Linked DNA regions of Homo sapiens: region 2 is linked to region 1. The links come from fine-mapping of genetic effects on gene expression. Tissue or cell type: lung. Region 1 holds a variant in brackets; the other region holds the start of a gene. All regions are shown on one strand. Distances are from middle to middle.

Region 1 (8,228 bases):
TTGGCCAACCCAATTCATGTTGACCTTGACTCCTTCTAATATTTTCTAATGTAGTGGTCAGAATCAAGGGCCGACCTCCCTGAAGAGGGCATCTATTTTTTTCCATATCTGCATCACCAGGTCCCTTTTTCCCCTTTCTTTCTCTCTCTCTCTCTGCCTCCCTTTATCTCTATCTCCATCTCTCTCTCTTTATCTCTATCTCTGTCTCTATCTCTATCATCTCTATCTCTATCTCTGTCTCTCCCTTTCTGCCTGAATTAGCTATTTGGGGTAAGCTCTGTGAAGAATGCTATACTTCGCTCTTTTCCCCAAACTGAATGGTATTATGAATTTGAAGATGCACATTATCGACAGGACATGAGGATGTCCCCATTGTAACACTGCTTTTATGTTTCCAAAGACAAAGCAAATAGTAGTGAAACTGAAAAAACAAAGTATACGCAGACATATACTGAATATGCGCCTTCTACCTTGTTCCCAGCCCACCCCAGTGCCACCACACACACGATTATATTGAAATTCTCGGTGGGTTTAAATGCATGTGTGCCACCCTTACCCCCTGCTGCACTGAAGCTTACAACCTCTAATAATATCAGATTAATTCACTGGAGTATAAACAGCAATGGGCACCATTATGAACATTAGGACGTGTTGCATGTTAGGACAAAAATTTTTATCTAATTAAACACAGAACTATTCTGATATTACCTATACTCATTATGGAGCTATCTGACCCCTGCAATCTGTCTCACCTACACACACCACAACAAACAGAATATACTGCATTGCTGAGAATATTAGGAGCTTGAAGCATGGAGTTAAATGTTTCCCATTCATGGTTTTATTAAAAAGCAAAACCAAAAGTTCTTCGAAGTCATTCAACTTGATAAGGCAAAACTGCTTCTCCAGCCATTTCCAAGAGAGAGGAAATGCATCGAGATGTTTTGAGTTAACTTTCTCATCATGAGCCCTCATAAAGAGCACTGGTTAGTAAGACAATAAATGAGCATGTTTTAATTAGAAAATGTGGAATCCAAGCACTTTTGCAGGAAAGAAGATGATAGCTTAAAAGAGATGTCAGGAGACTAATAAAAGTTAAAATGCATTAAGTGGCCACAGTGAACTCAAAAGTAAAGTCGTGGGACGTTTGAGAAGTCAACCAGAGAGGGTGATGAGTCAGAAGGGGGCAGAAGTTAGTCAGTGAAACTTAATTTTTTCGACTTCTTATTGGAATCAGCTGTAAACCCCCTTCTGTGCTCTGGCAAGTGAGATAACTCAATGTCCTGCAATTTCCCCACCCTGGCCGGGACTGTGTCTGCCTGGAGGAGAAAATCATTACAATCAGGCAATATGAGCTGGGCTGTGACCAAATTAACATTGAATGTGGCCTGAGTTGGTCTGTGGCTTTTGCCTGCCAGCCCTCCATTTCAGGGTCTCCTAATAGCACGATGTTTGGTTATGGGCCACACTCCTTCCTCTCCACTATGAGGCCCCCACATGGGCACGTGATCCAGGCCTGGCCAATTAATGTGGTCTGCTCGCCAAGACTCCAGGCTTGAGGCTTGGGTCAGTTGTGGGCATGTGACTCTAGTTGGATTCCATGAGACTCAATCAAGGGAGTGTTGTTGAAATGTCAAGAAGTGCTTTACTTTCTGTTAGGTTTCTAAGCTTTGAGAATATAGCATATAGTTACCATAAAAATCCCACAAGAGGAGGCCTACATAACAGCGATGGTAGAAAGTAAAGAAGTGCAAGGCTGAGAGACTCCCAAAGCCTGAGTTTAAGTATTACTTGAATCCTGTTCTGTCAGGATCTTCTCTCTGTCCCAAATCCTCCACTTTCTCAAGTTTCATTTTCCTGATATGTTGAAAGGGGACAAGAACATCTGTATTGGTCTGTTCTTACGCTGCTAATAAAGACATACCCGAGACTGGGTAATTTATAAAGAGAAAGAGGTTTAATGGACTTACAGTTCCACATGGCTGAGGAGGCCTCACAGTCATGGCAGAAGGCAAGGAGGAGCAAGTCACGTCTCACATGGATGACAGCAGGCAAAGAGAGTGCTTGTGTAGGGAAACTCCCCCTTATAAAACCATCAGATCTCATGAGACTTATTCACTACCACGAGAAGAGCATGGGAAAGACCCGCCCCCATGATTAAATTAACTCCCACCAGCAGGTCCCTACCACAACACGTGGGAATTGTTGGAGCTACAATTCAAGATGAGATTTGGGTGTCAACACAGCCAAACCCTATCAACATCTCTCCCCTAAGGGCTTTAATTCAGATAACATGATGTAAAGTGCCTAGTATCCTACTGGGCACAAAGTCGGCATTTCAGAGATGATTATGTCTAAAAACAAAGACCAAAAGGAGTGGTCCGTGGTTTCCAAGAAGTGAAAAGATTGTCAATAGAACTACAATGTCTCCTTGTATGGATTCTGAGAGTTAGAAGCTGGAAAAGATGACTGAGTACAAGAACATCCAGAAAATGCACATGTGCATAGCACCGCCCCTTGCACAGGGGGCTTGTAAATTTATTCCTTCATTTTCCTGAATTGGTGAGAGTGGGGATGGGGGAGAGTAGAGCTCCTTAGAGTCCCACCAAATGCTTCAGTGGGCCTAATAGCTCCCTGTGCCTTCTCATTACATGTCCCCAAGTATAGTGGAGAGGATCTGCGTTGATAAGAAATAAGAAAGTCACTAAGATCATCGAAAATTCTTATCTAAGAACATACCAGTGTTAAGTAAAGCAACATTTCCCACCTTCCCTTTAGGGCGGGATTTTAACCCTTTGTTCAAATAATTAAAAAATAAAATAAAAATTTAAAGGTCGTATTATTGGTGTGCAATACCTTTACAGGAGTATTAATTGTTGAGAAATGGACTCATGAATGCTGGTTCGCAATTGAAGCTCTAGCAAATTGAAATCTGATTTCAGTACCATTTAACACATAGAAAAGAATTGGTATTCAGTCTCTTTTGAACTATAAGGCATACACAGCTTAAGTACAAATGACAGCAATTGGAGGTATTTCCTCACTCCTAAACAGTTATTTTGAGCAAGAAATGATTCAATAAGGGATTTGAAAAATACACGATTTTGAGGGTGATCCTTTGTGCAGCGCTTTGCCATGACCTCTCAAAGGAGTATTTGCAAAGAATACTCACAGAATGGCCCCAAATTGTCTGGTGGGTTTTGAAAGAAAAAAACCTAATGTAGGAAAAGTTTTTTTAAACATTCCCATAAAATCTAAAGGATGCAGCTGCAGCTGAGCAGAATGGCTGAGTATCTCGTGACGGTTTGCAAGTCTGGGGACATAAGATTCCAACTCACAAAAGCAAATAAGGCCAAGACTAATAAATCAAAGGTGCCTTCAGAAAAGTTGCAGGACCTACTTCCCCTGCCTGGTAGGACTGCGGATGCCTTATCTGGCTTCTGCGAAAAGAAAAGGATCATCAGGGAGCCAGAATTAGAAAGGACTTGC[G/A]CTTCATCAAGTTTCTCCCTGTCTGAGCCAGATAAAATATCCTCTGGGAAGACTTCAGGAAGTGCCTCAAGGGAATGACAGTTGATATTAGTTGAATGGGTGAAAGAGCACAGACAGAGATGGAAATATTTGGCTTTTTTCAACTGTGAACTTAACCCCAGAGTCTTCGACATTTACACAGACTCAGGGCAAAGTCTTGCTCTTACAATGCATGACCACAGGGTGGTCTCAATTTGTAATTGGGTCCCCACGGTAAAGGCTGCTGAGGGATGGATTTTTATTTTTCTTTTTTTTAAGTTCTTTCTACCTAGAGACTTAGCTGTGGTACCCTGCAATAAGAAGTTCAATTCCTCAATAAGTTTTTAATTTTGTAGAGGCAGGCAAATTTAAAAAGGACAGCTTCTCCTTAGGTACCTCCACTTTCCAGGATGCTTCCAAGTTTGCAGACCATGCCAAGAATAGGCTGGAGTGGTCTTGAATAAGATGTAATGCTTGTTTCTTTCTTAATGCACCTTGTAATTTGCACACGTGCCACAACACTTTATTTATTTTCTTATTAATGGGTTCGAGTGTGTTTAACACCACAAGCCATAAATTACAGAGCAGTGGATTAGACTAGGCTTGCTTTATTTTCCTGCCAATTATCAGAAAGTGATGTGGGGGATGAGGTGCCCCTCCTAACCAGCTTTTTCTCTGCCACCTCCCTTGCCTCCATCCAACAACCAACCCCCTTGTTTCCATCTGCCAAGAAAAAAAAAAGACACAGCCTGGTCTCTCATTGGTGAGCTTGCCTATTGAGCAGCTCAGTTATTGAGATTAATAAGCTGCCAGTTTCCAAGGAAGACTAAGAAAACTGCAAAATTAAAGTGCACTGCAACATGAAATGCTGCTGGTGGCCAGGCGAGATCGTGGTGTCAAAAAGGCAAGGTAAAGCTATAAAATAAGGCTGAGCTTGAAAGGCTAATCTAAAGGTCTCATTAATTTCCATGTTGCCTGTGATGAGAATTTAGAGGGGGCATAATGTTTTGCAATACAGAGAAATCAAGCTGCCTATTGATTTGAAAGTGCTTCGATGCATTTGGTTCACCCAGAATGAATCCTACCTTTAAACCTCACTTGAAAACATTAAAAAACAAACAAAAAAGCAAACAGGTTGCCTAGGTTTAATATTCTAAAGATCAGGCTTGTCAGTGATTCTGTCAGAAAATTAATCCTTAGGTAGAAAAATCAATCTGAGAACAAGTTTGGAATAGTCTTTGCACTCAGCATGGTGAAGATGTTTCAACAATCTTGTTTCTTCTCTGTGAAAGCCTCATTTACTGAAGGTCTTGAATCTCGATTTCCAAATACGCACTACCAATAAGGCATCCAGATTAGTCTAAGATTGCTTCTTCTTGAAGACAAAAAGTGTGTTTTTAAAAATTCTGACACCAAAATTAGATTCCTTAGATACCACTCAGCAAGCCCAACATGCTCAATTCTTTTTCTGAGCACTTGTCATGCTTCCTGCTAACAGGAACAAGGATGATATTCAAGGGATGCCCCAAGGGTCAGCCATGGCACCCATGGCTGTTGCGCTTTCTCCCAGCAATCTGGCAGAGCTCTGTTTAGAATGAAAAAGATCCTACGAGTTGCAGAGCTAAACAAGTAGCTGTGCTTCTTAATTCTCCCTTGTCAATCTGCACTCATATTTTATAATATGCAGGGCATAAAACCTCTCCCCGTAAATCATATGCTATGCTGCCACCACCATGGAGTGGTGAGGCCTCAGATTTACCATCCGGGTTGCCACCAATTCCTCAGAGCTTCAGAGAAGGGTCTCTTGCATCTGGCCTGGCTTATGAGTTTGACAATGACTAAGTCTATGTCCAGTAACAGGCTGGAGTTCATCCCATAGATCATTTCTCGCCTTATGCCACTTGTAATGCATTGACTTCATTTCATGGCCTAAGCAAATTAATTTGTTGTTTGCCATCAGGCTAGACAGAGTTTTTTCCAGCCCCCGCCCTTCCTAGTTCCCCAGGCATTATCATATGGTCATTAAGAATATGGGATTTAAAGTCAGGTCAACCCAGGTTCAAATTTCAGCTCTGTCACTTACTAATGGGTGACATGTAAATAACTTAATTCCCCCAGCCCTGGTTTCCCTGTATTTTAAATATGGATAGTAACATATACCTAACAAAGAGCTTAAGGGATTAAATGGGATCCTGTAGGTAAAGCTTAGTGCCAAGCAAAAAGTATTTGACAAAGAAAAGTTAGTATTCACAGGCCTATATGATTGTGTGAAATAAATTTAACAAATTTCTGGAGAGAATTTTTTTTCTTTTTTTTTAAGATGGAATCTCACGCTATCACCCAGGATGGAGCGCAGGGGTGTGATCATAGCTTACTGCAGCCTCCACATCCTGGGCTCAAGAGATTCTTCCATCTCAACCTCCCAGATTACTGGGATTATAGGTATGAACCACTGCATCTGGCCTGGAGAGACATTTTTTAAAGAGAAAAATCAATTGCTGAGGGCTTTGGATATACTACATATGCTATTATCTGTAAATGGATGATTTTCTGTGTTATACATATTATTTTAGAATCAAAATAAGTCTGGCCAATAACTGCACTCAATTCTCTTGCCTCATAAATGTAACATGTCCAAAACTGAACTTTTGTTTTCTGCCACAAAAACCTGTTCCTTCTTCAGCACATGACATTGCTATTCACCCAGACATCTAAGTCAAAAACTTGAAGAATCCTAACCTTCATCTTCAAATCCCAGCAATCATTAATTTCTACTGATCCTACCTTCAAACTATACCTCACATCTTTGAATATTCAGCACCACTCCCTAATCAAAGGCATGCCACTTTTTATCTTAACTATTATTTTATTTTCCAAACTGGACCTTTAGTCTTGCATACTTTCCACTCTAACTGCCCCCCAATCCATTTATCATAGGGCAGCTATCATTATTAAAAGCAAAAAGCAGAGTGTATCTTATTATTTTGCTCTCCTGCTTAAAAAGCTTCAGTGACTTTTAATTGTTCTCGAGGTAGAGTCCAAAAGCTTTAACATGGTCCAAAGCCTTGATCCATCTTGCCCTTGCCTACCTTTCTAGTTTGCTTTCTCTTGCTTTCTCTTTCTGGCACCTTAGTGTTTCTGCCCCTAGTGGCTCATTGTTTTTGTGATCTAGAGCACTCTTTAAGCCTGATTAACCCCTACTCATCCTTAAGGGCTCAGCTTAAATGTCCATTTCTTATGGGTCTGGCTTCTTCAGCCGTCTGTGGCACTTACTGCATTTGTCATGGTGTAAGGGACATTTGTTTATGTTCTGTCTGCTTCCAGCCTAGAATCTCCATAAGGACAGAGGTTTTGTTTTTCTCCTTTGCCGGATCCTCAGTGCCTGACACATGGTAGGTTCTCATAGCTATTTCTAGAATAATTAATGAATGACCATTTAAAAAGGCAAATTGCAAACCGTTTTGCAGCTTGAGGATCTTGATGATTAAAATTAGGGCTTCTAGTATGTCAGGGCAAAAGTGAACTCAGAGAGAAGTTTTGTCCTGCTTAGGGACTCTTTTTTGTGATCTACTGCTCAGACAGATCCAAAGAGAGACGCTTGCTTCAGCAAAACACACAAAGGAAGAAAAGTTAGGTTCTGTCACTGAGCTACTTTCTACTGTTTTAGACAAGAGAAGTTGACTTTAGAAACTCCCAAAGAAGCAGCCGACCGGGAAGATTTCTCACCTTGTCACTTTCAGCAGAGGAAGGAGTAGATAGGTGATATTGAACAAGAATTGCAAGTAGACTTTGTTTCAAAACCTTCTGTGAATAGGCTGGGAGGAAGGTGGAGGGTAGAGGGATTCTGTAACACACTACTTAAGAAAAGACAGTACAGACTGCTTGCAGTTAGTTCTGCCTTATGTTTGATTTTCGTTGGATTATATTATGGTTTATACATGAATAGACTGCTTTTGGTAGTACAAATTTATATGCATTGTTCTTTTATTTTACATTGATGCAGAACTTCCCTTATATGCTTGTTTGTCTTTTGTTAAATTCCAAACAGTCCTATTTTCTGGTTATGCCTCCTTAATCAGCCCCTCCAATGTACTCATCATAGAAAAAAAAAAGCAGCATAGTTCAGAGAAGATCTAACATGCTTCATTAAGACTGATGGGGACATCAAGAGAGCAATGCAGAGAGGAAAGGACCCACTCCCCACTGGTCTAAGGAGACACACTGGACTAAAGAGACACGCTTTGCATTCTGGGAGTGGCAGAATGCCTGCTCATTACCTCTCAGAGTTTTGAAATTATTCCATCAAACCCAGAAATCTGTATTAATGAGAGTAAGGGTGGTCAAGCTGTTTGTAAATTTACACCACATTTTCAAAAATGGTGACTAAATTATAATCAACCTTCAGAATGTCTTGCTTTTAATGGTTCTCTCTCCTGGAGAGAGACCAATTCTTATTTGGTATGAAAGACAGAAATGGAAATACTAGCATGGCATCATGCTCCTAAAAAGAAGAAATCCCATATCTATACTCTCTCATGGCTAAGAAATTGACACCAATAAACTCACAATATTTTAGCATTTGAATCAGGGAATTCATTCAATTATCTATTGCTAAGACTATATGGAAAAACAGTGGTGAATGAGAACAAATAATAATATGCTATCATATCTGACTTTACTTATGTAATAGATAAATTCCTATTCATCCCTCAAAACCCAGC
Region 2 (8,228 bases), 990 kb after region 1:
GGCAGTAAAAACGAAGGAACTTTACTTGCAAACTATTTCTGAGGTGCTTCATTTTTTCCCATTAAGAATTCATAAAAAGGATGCAGTATTTCAGTTTCAGAATCATACTGTAGTATACAATATATTAAATAGACTGCAGTCATGAGTAACATTAATTTTAGGGAAAACATTTTCTACCTCCATAACTTTATGAAATCTTTTGGAAATATGAGCAGGACCTGATATATTATCCTCTTATTACACAGTCTTAAAACACCTAAAATAATTATGTTAAGTAGTGGTTTATGTTTATTAAGGAGAGAAAACAACCCAAAATAATTTTTAAAAAGTCTGTTGCTGATAGTGCATAGTACTGAACAATGTGAACATTCCCTCTTTAAAGCAAAATATAAACCAGAAGTACAAAGAATACTTTGACAAAACTGCTATTTGCTCTCAGCAAATAAGACTCATAAAATTACTGTTGCTTTCACAAAACTTAAAGCAGAGTATTATGTAGTTAGAAAATACATCATGCTTAATCAAATACTGCTATGTCCCCTACTACTGAGAATGTATCAAAAGACATGTCTCCTCCCCCCCCCAAAAAAAACATATATATATGTCTTGCAATGTTCCCTGAAGGTTGGGAATCTGTGGTATATACTATGAGTGCAGAATGGGGGGTTTCTCCTTGTGAGTACATCAGGGCTACTGGGAACCAGCAGTTCAAAGAACAAAACTGTTGCTTTACACAAAGTAATGAAAGACAATAACATAGGCTTTTCATGTTGCCCCCTTCAAGCTAAGTAGGGTGATGCTAAGTTGTGCCTCTTTAAGTCTGTCTTTCTGTTTAAGTTTTAGTTCTCAAGTGGGAAGGGACAAAAAGGCCCTTGGAAATGACCTTGACCATATTTCACCAGAAATCACTTCTCAAAATTAATCTGCACAGAAAGAAAACAATGAAAAAAACTAGCCAAACAGGTTTTCCTTAAAAACACACAAGTAGTTCAAAGTTCCCTTCAATTGCACAATGAAAAAATAGCAATTAATGTTAAGAAACATTCAGTAGCTATAGCATAATAAAGGATTCACACATGCAGAGAAACCTCCATTCTTATCAAAATGAAAGTAGGAACTCTAACAATACAGCCAAATGTGATTGACAAGTTCCATGAATCAACAGTCTCGGATACCTATCTTTCTACATAGCCATCACCCCAAGTTACCTTCTCCCCAGTTAAGTCCAATGCCATGCTGAAATTTAACAAGAAGACCAGTTGAAATGAAACTATCTAAGTTACCAGCAAGGCTATCAAGATGATAGTATTATTTTCATACATTAACCTGAAATCAACACTAGGCACAAAAAGTTAAAAGAAGCTTAGTTAAGATTTAATTAACAAACTTAATAATTATTATCATAATAAACCCATCAACAAGCCACAAACACAATACCACACCAAACGATGTAAGAGTCATACAAATCCAGTTGTTTGAATAGTAATCTAACCTGGTATCACACCCAAAATGTAGATATGTTTAATATTTTAACACAAATTATCAGAGCTTTTCAGAAGTTGCCAGGAAACTAGAAGTAGACAGAGGGGTGGCTGGGTAAAAAAAACAACCTCAGTAGGAAAAAAATGTTCTTTAAATCAACGTACTCATAGTCTTCGAGTCTAGTGAAGATACTGAAACTGAAGCTAATTTTGATGTTTCATAAATAAATTCATGATCTGAATATGTTACATAACAATTAGAAATCTTGCCCCACGAGCCTAGCAAAATAAGCCCTTAGCCTGGTCAGTTATCTTTTCCTACACATGTGTGTGGAATATGCCAGAGAAATAATACAGCTGCCCAGCATGGGGTATATTGCTTTTTGGTTTGGGTCCTAGAAGGAGGGAACCTGACGCTTTAGGTACCTTGGGTTCTTAGGATTGAAGTTTACTATATGAAATCATTTTTCTTTAGTACCTAGACAAACAAATGCTTCACTCAAAGACAACTGTGGTCTTAATGAATGCAAGCTGGATTTTCCCCCCACTAACTTGATCAAAACAGTCCATTCAAAGGTCCATGAAAATATTTTAAAACAGCAATATTGCCATCTCAAGGGACCCATGAATAAGCTGAGCTTTCATTCTAAATAAAATGCCTTATTACTTTCAGCAGACTACAAAGGAAGAAATAAGCTTTAGGTCTTAGGAATTCTGTTCACAATTTTAAGAAAGGCTTTTGTCAACACAGGGGACCCAGAACAGGTGAATTTGCATGGTGCCTTAGAGTAGGTTTTTTTCTACATAAAAGAAGATCTGACTAGTTGAGTTAATTTACAGTTTGTTTTGTTTTTTGGGGCTGAAGAGCCTTCACTTTTTCATGTAGTTCTTCCAACATTAGTTAAGTTTACATTTAAACAAAGTTTAAGAGTATTATTGCAAACGTATTCTTGGCACATAGACAAGTTGCTGCTCTATGATGTGGCAACCACCTAGCAGAAGGAGGGTTCCTTGAATAACAACATTTTCCCTCTGTAGAATGTATGTGTCTCAGAGTATCCCTGAACTGGATGTCCTCATCTCAGTTTAGAGTTCAGGGTTTCTCAGGATGATGATACATGTACAGAAACTGCAACCTGCTGTACCACAGAGGCCCCCTTCCTCCATTTAAGCTGCCATTATATTAGTTCATTTTTCCATGGCTTAGCAGAAATTTTACAACTATACACTGATTCCTTTCTAAATTGCTGATTTGCCTTTACTCACTGGCCCTTCAGTTTTTCTACTCAACTGGAACTGAAAACTTAAGAGGAAAAAAGCAAAACAAATAAAACATGGTAATGATCAAGAACCCTCCAAAGAACTTTAAATGATATGAATGCATTAAAGAGCTGTTGTATATTAATTTTTAAATAATATTTAAAACAGATCCCGGCAGCCAGAGTTACAGAGTGAGTTCTATTTTTAAGAAAAGAGTTAGAGTTCAATTTGCATTCATTATGCTGGCTATTTTAAATAATTTTATTCCATGTGTATGCAGAACCCTCCCCTCCATTGACAAGATGCCACTTCAAGTAAGATCTAAGAGAGATATTGCTGTACGTGTCTCACAATTTTGAATAAAACAGTACCAGCAATCTCCCTCTTTCTCCATAGCCCTAAATTTATTATTAAGTAAATTTAGCAATAGCTCAATCACTGGAGCCCAAGACAGTATGTGATGCACTAAAGCACTTATATGTTTATTATCTTTTGCAAGCAACATGGGTAGTGGTGTCTATTATTGCCTCCTGCAAATCTGTAGCAATGTGATGCAAAACGGCATTTTTAAAGAAATTCTCTTTTGGAATGCAAATGATTCCTCCTGCAATTTTGAATATTTTAGCCAGCATGTACCATACAGTAGTTCTGGAATCACTGGCATCTCTCATGCTGTCAAAACTGAGTCAAATGCATTGTAATCCTGGAGAACGATAACCTTAAACAGCAATGCAACGTTAAAATGCATCCTAAAAAAAAATCCCTATAATTGCGATGAACATTAGAGAGAAACCGGCAGTCCTTCTGCAGGGAAATAACAGTCTGCTCTAGCAATCTTTCCCCTCCCCCCCTGAAACTCATGCAACTAATGATGACCTCCCGAAGTGCCGAATTTAAATGTTCCAGCATTCATCTGAGGATGAAGGAGGAAAAAAAAATACATAGAAAACCATGAAACAAGTTGTAAACTGCACAAACGCAAGGAGAGAAAGAGAACTGCAGCTGATTCAGGAGCGATTGCAGAATGAGGAGCAACAGAAAGGAAACAAGAAAGAAAGAAAAGGGGAAAAAAGCCTTAAGCATTAAAGAGTAAGAAGTGAAAAACATTTACCAGCAGCTCGGTCAGTAGCTTCGCTCCCTGACACCATCTACATAGATAACTTAGCCTAGAGTCTTCGGTCCCAGCTCGCTTTGGAGCAAAATTCCTTCACTTCGAGGGGGCAACACACACCCTCAAGAAAGAGAGAGAGAGGGAAAGAAGGGGAAAAAAAATAATCCCAAAGACCAAGACAGGCTTTCCCCCTCCTCCCTCTTACCCGCCCCCCGGACTCCCCAAACGGTGCTCGCTTCTGCACAGTTCTGCCTGCTGTGCCGCTGAGCTCGATGTTGCCGCGGCGGCTGCTGCTGCTGCTGCTGCTGCTGCTGCTGCTGCTGCTGCTGGTGGTGGTGCTGCTGCTGCTACTTCGGAAACGATTAGGAGGAGGACGCCCAAGCACGACCTGAGCCTGCGAGCCACCCAGGACCAATGTGCAACCTGCTCTGGAATCAAACCCATAACACACGCACGCACACCCAGTGACTCCTGCACGCGAGCTCTCGCGCGCACACACGCGCTCGCCCGCGCGCCGCACAACACACGCGCGCGCGCGCACACACAAACACACACACACACACACACACACACACACACACACAGAGCGCCGTGCGCCGCCCGCTAGCCCTCGCGGTCCCTGAATGGGGAGTGCGAGCCAATCCCTGGGCCCCGAGAGCGCGCACCGGCCCAGGCCGCCGGGGTTGGGTGGTGGCGCTGGGGCTGCAGCTGCTGTGGCTGCGGGGTACGCAGCCAGGGAGGGGCTCACGGCTGAGAAAGAGGGGCGCTAGGGACACGTGCACCCCTTTGTCTGCAGAGAGAACCCCAGCTGGGCGTTTCCAAGACCAGGAACTGAGCGCGCGAACCCCGGGCGGCTCAGAGTTCAGTTCGGCTCTAGGGTTAGCCTGAGGAGGCTTGGATCCCTAGCTGCACGCACCGAGGGATCCGCTCGGCACCCGATGCACCACATCTATGCACCACAGCTACACCCAGGTCTCTGCAAACAGGAGAGCACAGCAAGCCTTCGAGTCCTGCGGACGACCCGAGCCTGCCCTGGCTCTCGCGAGCATGTCCAGTGCTTGGCTGCACCCAGACCGCTTCTTCCAGGGTTAGGAACGCAGAGCAGGGCAGAGCCGAGCTCTGCAGCTTCCAGAGAGAAGCAAAGGTTCCAGAGTCTTCAGCCGCTGCTCACCTGCCTCATCTAGGCTGCCCGGTGGCTCTGAACCTGCACCCAAGGACGTAGTGATGGGGAAGCTAGATTTCCAGACGTCAGAGAGGAGTTACTTCTCTTTTTTTCATATAGGGAATCTTTGAAAAGAAACAATTCTTAGCCCAGGAAAGGCTGTTTCAGTTTACAGGGTAATTAACAGAAAATCCAGCAGGGCCTGGTGGTTTTAATAGTAACAGCTGAACAAGTATTGCTTGTTCAGCTCTGTGCAGGCTCTGTGGAATGTGTTGCCTATGAATTATCTGATTTTAACCTGTTCAGACACTGTATGATCCACCCTAGGAGGAAACCGAGGCCCCAGAATGTTACCAACTGCTAGTATATCATACCCAATACATCAAGAATCTAAACCCTGCAGTCTGGCCCTCAGTCACTGGAGACAGGATGAGGAGTGTGGATGAACGCTAGGCAAGTACAGCAAGGTAAAGGCCTGGTGGGTGTTTGGGTGATAACATCCTCTGGCCTTCAAGCTGTACCTGGCTTGTTGTCTTCAATAACCTACAAACCTTGAAAAACTGCATGCCTGAAATTTGCCAATGTCTTCATAGTACTAATATTAATAATACTTATCTCTTGATTACATACTCTTGTTCATCCTTTAATTAGGTGCCATCTTAATCTTTAAAGGAACTCTGTAAAGAAACTATCCTACCCCCCTTCTACATATGAGGAGGCTGAGACTGAGATGTGGTGTCACTTCCCTCAAGGGACAGGCCCTGAATGAAGACACTGTTTGTCCTATTGCAAGGTCTATGCTGTTTTTTACTAGAATTTGCATCTCCCTTAATTGCCTTCTGAATAAAGCCATGGGATGAGGCCATGGCAGTTACTTTTGATTTCATTCAAGAAATTCATTGATTTTGTAACATTCACTCATTCAAGGATATTTACTGAGCATTTACTTCCTTCAAGGTGCTATCCTAGTGGTGACGGGATGACAAGGGCATTATCTCTATACTCTTTGGGCTTATATTCTAACAAGAAGACGGTGATCATATGCTTAAAATGCTAATGAGGGGCATTTACTGAGGGCTTGCTAGGAATGCATTTCTCTCCCCTCTTCATCTAGCAAACTCCTATTTATCCTTCATCTATCTCTTCCAGCATCAACTTCTTCAGGGAAGTCGTGAGATCTTTCTGGGTTATTACAGGTGTTCAAGGCATCATGTAACTTTAAAAAATTTGTGGTAGCTTCAGTTTTCCACTTGTGTTATGATTTAGCTAGTGTATGTCTCCTAGACACACATGAACCCTCTAGACTGTAAACTCCATGGGGGCAAGAATGTGTCTCTTTTAATTAAACTCACTCTCACTCTCTACCACACACACACACACACACACACACACACACACACACAAACTACTCTTGGAATAAGAATAATAATTCCTAGGAGAGGGGAGCTGTTTTTATTCCCAATTCACAGATGAGTAAAATGTGGCTGAGTAAGATTAAGTAGCTTGCCCAAGGTCACATACCTGGATAACTGGCAGAGAAGGACTCCCACGCAGGTCTGTCTGGTGCTACAGTCCACATGACTAACCCCTGTCATGTTGTCCAACAGCCAATCAGACTACATGAAAGGGGATCATGGGAAATAAGGTAGACAGATGCTGGGGATGGCATTATGGGGGAATACAGAAGTAACAGAGATAAATCATTCAGTATAGTAAGAATTAAAGAGGCATGCAGTAGAATTTTTTGAGACAGGGTCTTGCCCCGTGGCCCAGGCTGGAGTGCAGTGGCACGATCTTCACTCACTGCAACCTCCGCCTCCCAGGTTCAAGTGATTCTCGTGCCTCAGCCTCTGGAGTAGCTGGGATTACAGGCATGCACCATCACGCCCGGCGGATTTTTGTATTTTTAGTAGAGATGGGGTTTCACCATGTTGGCCATGCTGATTTTGAACTCCTGGCCTCAGTGATCCACCCGCCTCGGCCTCCCAAATTGCTGGAATTACAGGCATTAGCCACCTCGCCAAGGATATTCTTAATCTACTATGGGCACCCACCATGTGCTAGGCAACTTGCTCAGATTTTTTTTTCTCATTTTAACCTTAACAATTCTTTTGGCTAAGCATGGTTATTTCCAATTACAGACAATGAAACAGACTCCCCAACAAACCTGACTATAAACTCCAGGGGTACAGTGATATGTCTACTTTAATTTCCCATTTTATCTCATAGTATCTGCCAGCTAAAGTCACTCTCTGTTCCTCTCTCAACCCCTCTCTTACACACACACACACACACACACACAGACACACACAGACACACACACACACACACACACACACGCAATTCGCCCAAGGTCTTACAGCTAGTAAGTAGCAGAGTTAGGATTTGAGGCCAGGTCTGTCTTCACCGTTTCAGAGGAGGTTGGTATGGGGGCGAGGTGATGTCAGTGTGGTGTTGCAGTTTAGCCATGCTATAGTATTTGATAATGCCGGAGGATCTAACTGCCAGGGAGAGATACTGCCGGTGCATTTTCCCCTTCATCAAATCTTATAAGGAATTTGAGATTCAAAGACTTAAAGTTATTTTACCAAGGTCACAACCAGTGTCACAATGCAGAGCTACATTCTAAACCCAGGCATCTCTCACTGCAGACGTGTGGTACAGGATGTTGTAAATGGCACTGGGGCTTTCCAAGATTTTCAGCAAATCCTGGCTGGGGGAACCCTCACTCAGAGAGGACATGCTGTCCAGAGCCAAGCAAGCCTTCTGCACCACTCCTCCCACCTGTTACCTCTCCTCGAGGCTCCACCTTTGTTCAGGCCCCTGTTCCTCTGCCTTTTCAGGCCTTACCTGGAACCCAATGCCTCACTGCCTCCCTGCTCATTGTCAGCAGCAGCAGTGGCTACAAGCCACGGTAAAGTAAAAACTGCATTTTGTCCAGCTCTGCTTCTAAGCTGACTGCTGGGCATGCTCAGTGATAAAGGGAAGCTTTGATTACAAATAGGAAGCTTTTGTTAAACACCTTTCCATTTTGGAGTATTACTTTGTAACTGGATCAGTGTGTGTAGCCCGTTGCAGAGATCCCTAGGCTATACCAATCAGGTCTGTAAGAATGAGATGCTTCCACATGGAAAAATATCTCCATCCTTTGCATCCTCTACCTTATCTCCAGCATTCATCTCGCTGTTCTGTCCTCTCTGTAAGTGCACACAAA

Direction of the effects. Positions count from the first base shown, and alleles are read on the strand shown. Sizes are in standard deviations (SD) of each study's normalised expression.
For the expression in lung of the gene that starts at base 4,347 in region 2, allele G in region 1 goes with a lower level than allele A (moderate effect, 0.66 SD a copy in GTEx).

The links. PIP is the estimated chance that this variant, and not a neighbour inherited with it, causes the effect.
Region 2: TENM2 starts here. The variant in region 1 is fine-mapped to the expression of TENM2 in lung (GTEx, PIP 0.93).

Annotation. Positions count from the first base shown.
Region 1 is chr5:167,963,178-167,971,405 of GRCh38, reverse strand. All of the region lies in intron 6 of TENM2 (teneurin transmembrane protein 2), which reads right to left. Among named protein-coding and RNA genes, the nearest start is that of TENM2-AS3, 14 kb to the right of the region's middle. The variant G/A (reference allele first, on the strand shown) is at 3,490.
Region 2 is chr5:166,975,148-166,983,375 of GRCh38, reverse strand. TENM2 (teneurin transmembrane protein 2) reads right to left here and starts at 4,347. Exons shown (of 31, transcript NM_001395460.1): 1 at 3,853-4,347. RefSeq lists enhancers at 4,289-4,788, 4,789-5,290.